Regions from separate parts of the Homo sapiens genome. Here regions 2 and 3 are each linked to region 1. The links come from fine-mapping of genetic effects on gene expression. A gene starts in region 1. Each other region holds a variant in brackets. All regions are shown on one strand. Distances are between the middles of the regions. Region 1 holds the start of BDNF-AS (BDNF antisense RNA). Region 2 has its middle 21 kb from the start of BBOX1-AS1. Region 3 has its middle 11 kb from the start of LGR4.

The links. PIP is the estimated chance that this variant, and not a neighbour inherited with it, causes the effect.
Region 2: its variant is the best candidate, but not a certain one, in a credible set for the expression of BDNF-AS in tibial artery (GTEx, PIP 0.82).
Region 3: its variant is the best candidate, but not a certain one, in a credible set for the expression of BDNF-AS in esophagus muscle (GTEx, PIP 0.73).

Annotation. Positions count from the first base shown.
Region 1 is chr11:27,505,375-27,508,138 of GRCh38, forward strand. It overlaps BDNF-AS (BDNF antisense RNA), which reads left to right and starts at 1,478. Exons shown (of 7, transcript NR_033315.1): 1 at 1,478-1,524. It overlaps LIN7C (lin-7 cell polarity scaffold C), which reads right to left and starts at 1,395. Exons shown (of 5, transcript NM_018362.4): 1 at 1,342-1,395. The coding sequence starts at 1,378. RefSeq lists enhancers at 956-2,155, 1,312-1,441, 1,512-1,801.
Region 2 is chr11:27,238,690-27,241,453 of GRCh38, forward strand. No RefSeq gene overlaps it. Among named protein-coding and RNA genes, the nearest start is that of BBOX1-AS1, 21 kb to the left of the region's middle. The variant C/G (reference allele first, on the strand shown) is at 1,224.
Region 3 is chr11:27,482,554-27,485,317 of GRCh38, forward strand. It overlaps the pseudogene RPL37AP7. Among named protein-coding and RNA genes, the nearest start is that of LGR4, 11 kb to the left of the region's middle. The variant C/T (reference allele first, on the strand shown) is at 1,577.

The sequences.
Region 1 (2,764 bases):
CTTAACTAGCTTTCAAAGAAAAAACTTACTCCTGTTAACACCAAACAGATTTGCTCCCATCTATAAAACACAGTGCCACTGTGCTCAAGAGGAAGATGTCAGAGACTTAGGCCTAACTCGGCAAGTCTTCCCAGAGTAGCTAGTCCTCTAAAATGATGCTTTAATAGGCTTAACGGAAACAATCTCATTTACAGTGAGGCTTCCAAATGGTGAACACGGTAAAGAGCAAATCAGCAACATTAAGTGCACATTTGTTTGTGGGAAGGCATTAGGAAAGAGGTTTTTCTAAGTACAGTAATTCTAAAAATGTGTTTTCTTAGGGAACAATAGTAATATTTAGACTAATTGCAAATGTTAATATGTGCAATATAATTTCAGTCTCCATCCTACATATACATTTTTTTTTACCACCAGTACTCAAAATGTTTATTTGTACTTCTCAATTCCTATCAATGATTTCTAATGCTGGTGTATGAAAAGCATGCTTGAAATTGTTTGAAATAAAGGACTTAGGGACAGAGTGGAATGCTGGAAATCTGTAAAAGGACTGGAAACGCTGGAATGCTGGAAATCATGGTAGGCGCATAGCCAGTTATTTTCGTAGGCTTCTCTATCTCTAATTACTCAGCAGAGGTGGTTTTATTTTCCTTGACAGTCTGCTCTAGGAAGCAATCAGCCAACCAGTTTGCAATTGTAGGGTTTGTAAGAAATGAAAAACACTGCACCTGCAAGTGTTTTAGCATCTACCACTATTCGGCTTACTTACGTAACCTCCTTCCCAAGACCAAGTCAGTAGGATTGTTTTTAAAGCAACCTCTCCATTTCTAGGAGGGGCACAAAAGCTAGCAAATACCCCAACCCGAATACAAGCGAGGTTGTGGAGAAAGTAATGAAGGAGTTTGTGTGCAAACAGCGGGGAAAGGAGGTTCTGTTGAATTGTACCGTGTGTCCGTTCTCGTGCTGTACAGGCAATGAGTGTAGTCTGTGCGAACCGGGTGTGTGACGTTTGCTTTTCGGGTGTACGGGTCTCCGAATGCTGCTTCTGCTGTGCTCACCAAGGGAGCGCGTGTGCGGCGTGTGTCTGCGAAGCGGGCAGGTTGTGTTTAGTTGTGCTGTGCCTTGGAACAGTCCGTGTGAACAGAGGAGGGCTTACGGTTAACAGACAAAATACCGTAAGCGCCCTTCCTAGAGCCAGGCACAGAGACAACGGCGGCCTCTGGCGCCGGCACAAGGGACAGCGTGGCCCGGATCTCAGAGCCTGGGTCACTCCTCCTCCCCTCCAGCGACACAGCACTCCCCCAACCCTTCCGCCCACCTCCGCCGAGCCTCGGCTGCACTCACCTCTCTCCAGCCGCACGGGTTCCCCTAGCGCCGCCATCTTCTCCCTTAACCTACAGACCCACAGGAAATGACGACAGAAGGGCTGAGGTGGGGGGGCGGGGCCTAGGGGAAGCCGGAAAAGTGAGTACCGGCTAGTATCGCGAGATCAGGAAGGTGGCCGAGTGTGTCGCCGCGGCCATCAGGGTAAGGGTACCTGGACTTGCGGCTTTTTAGGTCGGCCTGGCTCCGCTCCTTCCGCGGTGACGAGGTCCCCCGGCCTCCTAGGGTTGGGAAGAGCTGCTTTCCTGACTCTCGTTCCCTGCCTCAGGCTTCCCTTATCCCAATCGCTTCGAACCCTTGGCTCAGCGTAGAGGAGTCAAGCCTGGATTCTAGTCCCACCTTGCCCATTAGCAGCTCTGTGACCTGGGACTGTTCACTTACCCTCTCTCAGCCTCAGTTTCCGCATCTGTACAACGAGAGGTCCTATCTCTTAGGTCCTTACAATTTTTAAACTCTGGGATTCGGTGGCAATTAAATGTGTAATGACATGTTGTCAGTTCTCAATTTGTGACAGCATTGCTTTAAATTTAAAAATCCACGGCTTGAATCTTCCCTCCAAATCTGTTAAGGGGTGGAAAGTACAAAGAGCATGAAACATATCTGGGTGAGGGAGAGAACAAGGTGCTTTGGTGCACCACAAAGTAACAATTTTATAAGCAGCTGATTCTTATAAAATCTTAAGTAAATGAAATATTGTGAAGCAAATAATATTCTTAATGCATTACAGATTTTTGAGCCACTTCTGAAATTTTCGCGAACCAAGAAGAATTTTAGTACTTGGATTTGACTAACATTTATCCAAGCCCTTAGTCTGTACTGATACTGTGGTAGGTGTGTTTACATCCAGCATTTCAACACTTCATGATGGGACTGTTTTAATAACCTGTTTGCCCCTGGTCCACCCTTTCCATTCACCTTTAGTATTTTCTTCTCCAAATCCATCATGGATGCCACCACTATGCTCCTTTTTCTCCCCTTGAATTCTGATTTCATCATCACAAGTTCTGTTCAGAAACTTTCAATGGTTTCTCTCCTGTTTCCTATTTCTAAAGCCTTGCATACTCTGACCCTAACTCATCCAACTAACTTCATTTCTCATTACCACTAAGTGCAACCACCACTTCAGTCCAGATAGTATAGTTTCAACCATATTTATTCCTGATTCCAAGTCTTTTTGTTTGTTTTAGAGACAGAGTTTCTCTCTGTTGTCCAGACTGGAGTGCAGTGGTGCAATCACAGCTCAAGAGAGCCTCCTGTCTCAGTCTTGCCAGTAGCGAGGACTACAGGCAAGCACCACCATGCCTGGCAAATTTTTAAATTTTTAGTAGAGATGGGGGTCTTGCTATGTTGCCCAGGCTGGTCTCAAACTCCTGAGCTCAAGCAG
Region 2 (2,764 bases), 270 kb before region 1:
CAATGCTTTAATTACGCATATACATGCAAAACCAAAATACAATCGAATTGTGCAATTGACAATATAATTTCAAGATTTATGGAAAGCAAGTAATGGATTGTGAACACATTGTGTTGGCAAGGTGGCCTAGTAAGGAGACAAAACTGTAGAGCTCTCTGATGTACACCTTCTTTCAATCCTTTCCCTGAAGCTCTGTGACTCAATGGCATCATTTGGAGATTAAAAACAAGTCTAAAATTGAGATTTGTTGCCAAATTGCTTCCCTTAAACACCTCCTCCTTTTATCACCACCAATGGATTCTGATTGCACCATTAGCCTTTATTCCTTGTATTATTATTGGCATTTTTCCATGCAAATGTCTGGGCTTCCCAACCAGAGTAAAAGGGTCATACACTCTGCTATAACTTTTCATGCTTGTAACAGACATGCAACATATTAATTGAACTACTGATACTTGTTTTTAAAAAAAACTAGCTAACAAAAAATTGATCTCTCTCCATCATAAATTCATACTTTTTCTTTACCATCCCAACTCATATACACCCTCCCCATCATGCCTACTCTATGACATAGAAAAAGAACTCTCATATCAATGCTTTCTCTTTGCTTTCTTTCCAAACCCTTTTGAGTAAGGACACTGCCCTTTCCCGTTACCCTCTCCCCAGAAGGCAAACACGAATCTCCTGGCAGCTGCTCCATTTATCCCTCTTGAGGCAGACACCGCCTTTCATTGTTATTTCAGTTGATCCAGTTGTGAATAAGGCATCAGATGCACTTTCTCTGAACATTCAACCTCTGATCGCTAAATAGCAAGAGGTTTGGATGATGTCTCTGGCAAGAATCCTTTCCCATCTGCTTCTAGTTCGGGGCCGACCTTTGACAGCCCTCCATCCATGACTCTAAGTGGTGTGGAAAGTGCTGTGGTCTCTGGCAAGTTGATTTGGTCCAAGGGAGCCGTTTATTTTTCCTAGCAAGACTGAGGAGGGATTTTGTGTCTCAGCATCATGTAGACTAAAGCTTATCACCAATTTCTCCAGAACAGATGTGTCTTCTTTTGACATAGGGAAGTTCTGTTATCAGATGCAAAAGGCCTTTTGAATTATGTTTTTGCTCTAAGGAAACAACAGTAGTTTTTAAAGATAGAAGCAACCAACATCTCCACATCTCCCTGGAGGACATCATGAAAAGATGTGTCCCATCCTCACCATTTCCTCATCCCACT[C/G]CCTTTAGTTAAAGCCAGTACTTATTATCTAGAAAACAAAAATCACTTCCTAATTGTTCTACCTGCCTCCTTTGTTGCCCTTGCCATCCATCTTCTACTTGCTACCAGACTGATCCTTTTGAAGTCTAAGCATGACTACCACCCTTGCTCAAATACCTGTAATAGTTCTGCATTGTTTATAAGAGAAAGTACATGTTTCTTAGCAAGCATACAAGGTTCTCCATAATTCCCCACTAGCTATTCAGCCTCAAACCCTTCTCCCTTACCTTCTCATACCCTCTCTACCACTCTAACCACAGTGATGCTCTCTGGCCTCTTAGCTAAGAGTGGCAAACTCAGGTGCCTACAAGGACCAAGCCAATGATAACAAGTGTGAGAACTGGAGGAGATGAAACAGTAGGAACTAGTAGAGTCTGTGAATTGAGTTATCTCATTTTTTTTTAGAGAAATTAGGCCAAACCAGGCATAAACATGGTTTATATTTGGCCCATGGTGACAGATGAAGACTCTCACTCCAGGTTTTCACTCATGCTAAAATCCGAGTGCCTAAAAAGGCCTCCTGTGTCCCTCACCACTGCTACTCCTTCACCTAGCTCATTATTTATCTCACAGAGCTCGGTTCCAATGCCATCTCCCCAAAAATCTTCCTGGTATTCATTCTGGGTTAGTTGTCCTCCTCCAGCTCTCAAAGCTATCTCTGGCCCCTTTGTGACAGCAGTAGCCACACTGTTACTTGCCTGACACCATGGCTTACCTGACTCCTTAATAGACCAGGACTTCCTTGCTGAAAGTGAATGTCTTACTCTCCCTGAGTAAGTACACAGAGTAAATGCTTATAGCAGACATATGTTTTGTCTATACAGGACCTCTTCTTCCCTATTCATGGAAATAGCAGCTGCTACTATCCTTTAAGGAACTGTCCTTTCTCTGCTCCTTGTGGTTTAGGTAAAGCTACTCAACCAGAGGACTCCATCGCTATCCTAGGGGAGGGCATATGACCCAAGATAGACCAATCAATTTTTTTTTGTACCCAGGAATGAAGAGGATTCAAAAAGAATAAAAGGCAACTGGAGCTATGTTACCTGGTGGCAGCACTCTAGAAGAGCTACAAGTGCCCTGGTTCCTAGAGTCTATTCTTCTCAATGTTTTGAACCAGTGAGTGTTTGCTGTGTAACAAATAATCGTAGTATACAATAATATCTATTTGTTTATCTCAAAATTTTAGAGACATGCAATTTGAACTTGGTTAGGCTGGGCATTTCTCTTGTCTTGGAGGGATTCACACATGCATCTACAACTGACTGTTGGTGAACAGGAAACTTGCTGGTCTAGGGTGGCTTCACCTGGGTCTTGCTGTTTTCCAGCATTCTAGCCTGAGCTTATTCACATGCAGTTGGGCAGATTTCCAAGAAAGAGAATAGAAATACACAAGACCTGTTGAGGCCTACACTCAGACTGGGTATATCACCATTTCCACTGCATTCTATTGGCCAAAGTAAGTTATAGGATCAGCCTAGATTGAAGAGGGTGAAAACTAGGTT
Region 3 (2,764 bases), 23 kb before region 1:
TAATTTTGTATTTTTGGTAGAGACGGGGTTTCACCATGTTGGCCAGACTGGTCTCGAACTCCTGACCTCAGGTGATCCACCCCGCCTCGGCCTCCCAAAGTGCTGGAATTACAGGCATGAGCCACTGCACCCAGCTGGATTTTGTTTTTCAAGGACTATTTACCACATACCTACTTTTCAAAATGTACTCCGCTAGGTACTGAAGAGTTTTGACTGATGCAGGGCTGTCTGCATGTAAATCACCCTGGGAAGGTTTGTAATACAGAAGTTCCAAGATTCCATCTCCATTGATTCTATTATAGAAGGTCTCTGTGGGTCCCTGAATTCCCAGTGTTTAAAAAGTTCCTGATTCTGATGTAGGCCTCCACCACTAACCAAGACGTATGACTTTTTGCTACAAGATAAGGCAAGTGTGGGTCCTCTGAGAAGCAGACATCAATATGGGATTACTCATGCAAGAGATTTGTTAGGGGAAGTGATTGTGAAGGGAAAATGGGGAGGGAGCTAAGGGCGTCTGAGAAACCATCAGATTGAGATGTGGGTCTGGCCCCAGGTGAGGAGGTGAAGGAAGGAAAAGAGTCTTAGATTTCAGTGCAGTTCTATAAAATTTCAGCAAAGCCACAAAAATTATCTGCCAGAGTCTCACGTCTCCCAGGAACAGGACTGCCTTAGTATCTCAGCCATGCTCAGTCATGGGCTGGGACCAGCCCATAGGAAGTGTGGCCTTGGCACAAACAGGGTGAAGGATTTTACCTTAGGACTGTTAGTCAATTAGTGTCCCCACAGTGAGAGGTCTGACAGGTGCCTTTCACTGCAGCCCCAGGATATAAGGTACGACATGGAGCTCTCCTACAAGCAGTTTACAATTCAACTTTCAGAATGTAGAAACACAGGGTTAGAAAAGACATTAACGCTAGTTTAATTACCTTCCTAAGGCTTAAGAAGGCTGAACAGCATCCCTGCTATTCTTGGATACCTTAGAGTTGGCATATTCATACCTCCATGGGGAGTAGTCCATCTTTGGGCACTTCTGGCTGTTAGAAAGTTGTATTACGTTGTGACAAACTGTTTCTTCTTGATGCTTTAAAAATTAGAAATAAGGCTGGGTGTGGTGGCTTACGCCTGTAATCCCAGCACTTTGAGAAGCTGAGGCGGGAGGATTGCTTGAGCTCAGGAGTTCAAGACCAGCTTGGGCAACAGCGAGACCTCATCTCTACTTAAAAAAACAAACAAACAAACAAACAAACAAACAAAAAAACACATAGCTCTCTGGGCTTAGACTTAGTTTGCGGTGACATGGCCAAATGCACCAAGAAAGTCAGAATCATCAGTAAATATGGGACCCGCTATGGGGCCTCCCTCCGGAAAATGGTGAAGAAGAATTGAAATCACCCAGCACACCAAGTACATTTGCTCTTTCTGTGGCAAAACCAAGATGAAGAGATGAGCTACGGGGATCTGGCACTGTGGTTTCTGCATGAAGACAGTGGCTGGCAGTGCCTGGACCTACAATACCACTTCTGCTGTCACGGTAAAGTCGCCATCAGAAGACTGAAGGAATTCAAAGACCGGTAGA[C/T]GCTCTTCTACTCTTTGAGACATCATTGGCCTATAATAAATGGGTTAATGTATGTAACAAAATTGCCTTGGCTTGTTAACTTTATTGGACATTCTGATGTTTGCATTGTGTTAATACTATCGTTTTGGAGAAGCATGCTGTGATGGATTATTTTAATTCAGTTTCTTTTTTTAGTAGTCAAATGATAAAATATGGCATAAGGATACAAGTCTTCCAAGTTAGATATATCTATTAGCTTTTTATAAGTCTGTTCCTACCAGTTTGATTTTGAGATACACTGGAGCAAACTGCAAACTTTAGTGTTTGTTAGTTTGTTTTTTGAGACGGAGTCTTGCTCTGTTGCCCAGTCTAGAGTGCAGTGGGGCGATCTCTGTTCACCACAACCTCCACCTCCTGGGTTCAGGCAATTCTCTGCCTCAGCCTCCCGAGTAGCTGGGATTACAGGTGCCCGCCACCATGCCCGGCTAATTTTTGTATTTTTAGTAGCGACAGGGTTTCACCATGTTGGCCAGGCTGCTCTTGAACTCCTGACCTCGTGATCTACCTGCCTCGGCCTCCCAAAGTGCAGGGATTACAGGTGTGAGCCACTGCACCTGGCAGTTTAGTTTTAAAATTACAGTTAATATTTAAAAAAAATGTTTTTAGGCTGGGCATGGTGACTCAGGCCTGTAATCCCAGCACTTTGGGCAGCCGAGGCAGGTGGATTACTTGAGGCCAGGAGTTTGAGACCAGCCTGGCCAACACAGCGAAACCCTGTCACTACTAAAAATACAAAAAATAGCTGGGTATGGTGGTGCATGCCTGTAATCTCAGCTATTTGGGAAGCTCAGGCACCAGAATCACTTGAACCCAGGAGGCAGAGGTTACAGTGAGCTGAGATCATGCCACTGCACTCCAGCCTGGGTGACGGAGACTCTTGTCTCCAAAAAAGTTTCTAAAGGTTTAGGATATACTAAATAATATACGTATACTGCCTCTTCTATTATACTTTTGGTGTTTTCTTTGACCTACACTGTATCAGCATTTTCAGGAAACAATATGAAACAATTATAATTTCCCATTAAATGTCTCTCTATATATGTATACATATGCATATATATATATAAAATGATAATTAGCAGGGTGTGGTGGCCTGCACCTATAGTCCCAGCTACTCAGGAGGCTGAGGTGGGAGGTCACGTGAGCCCG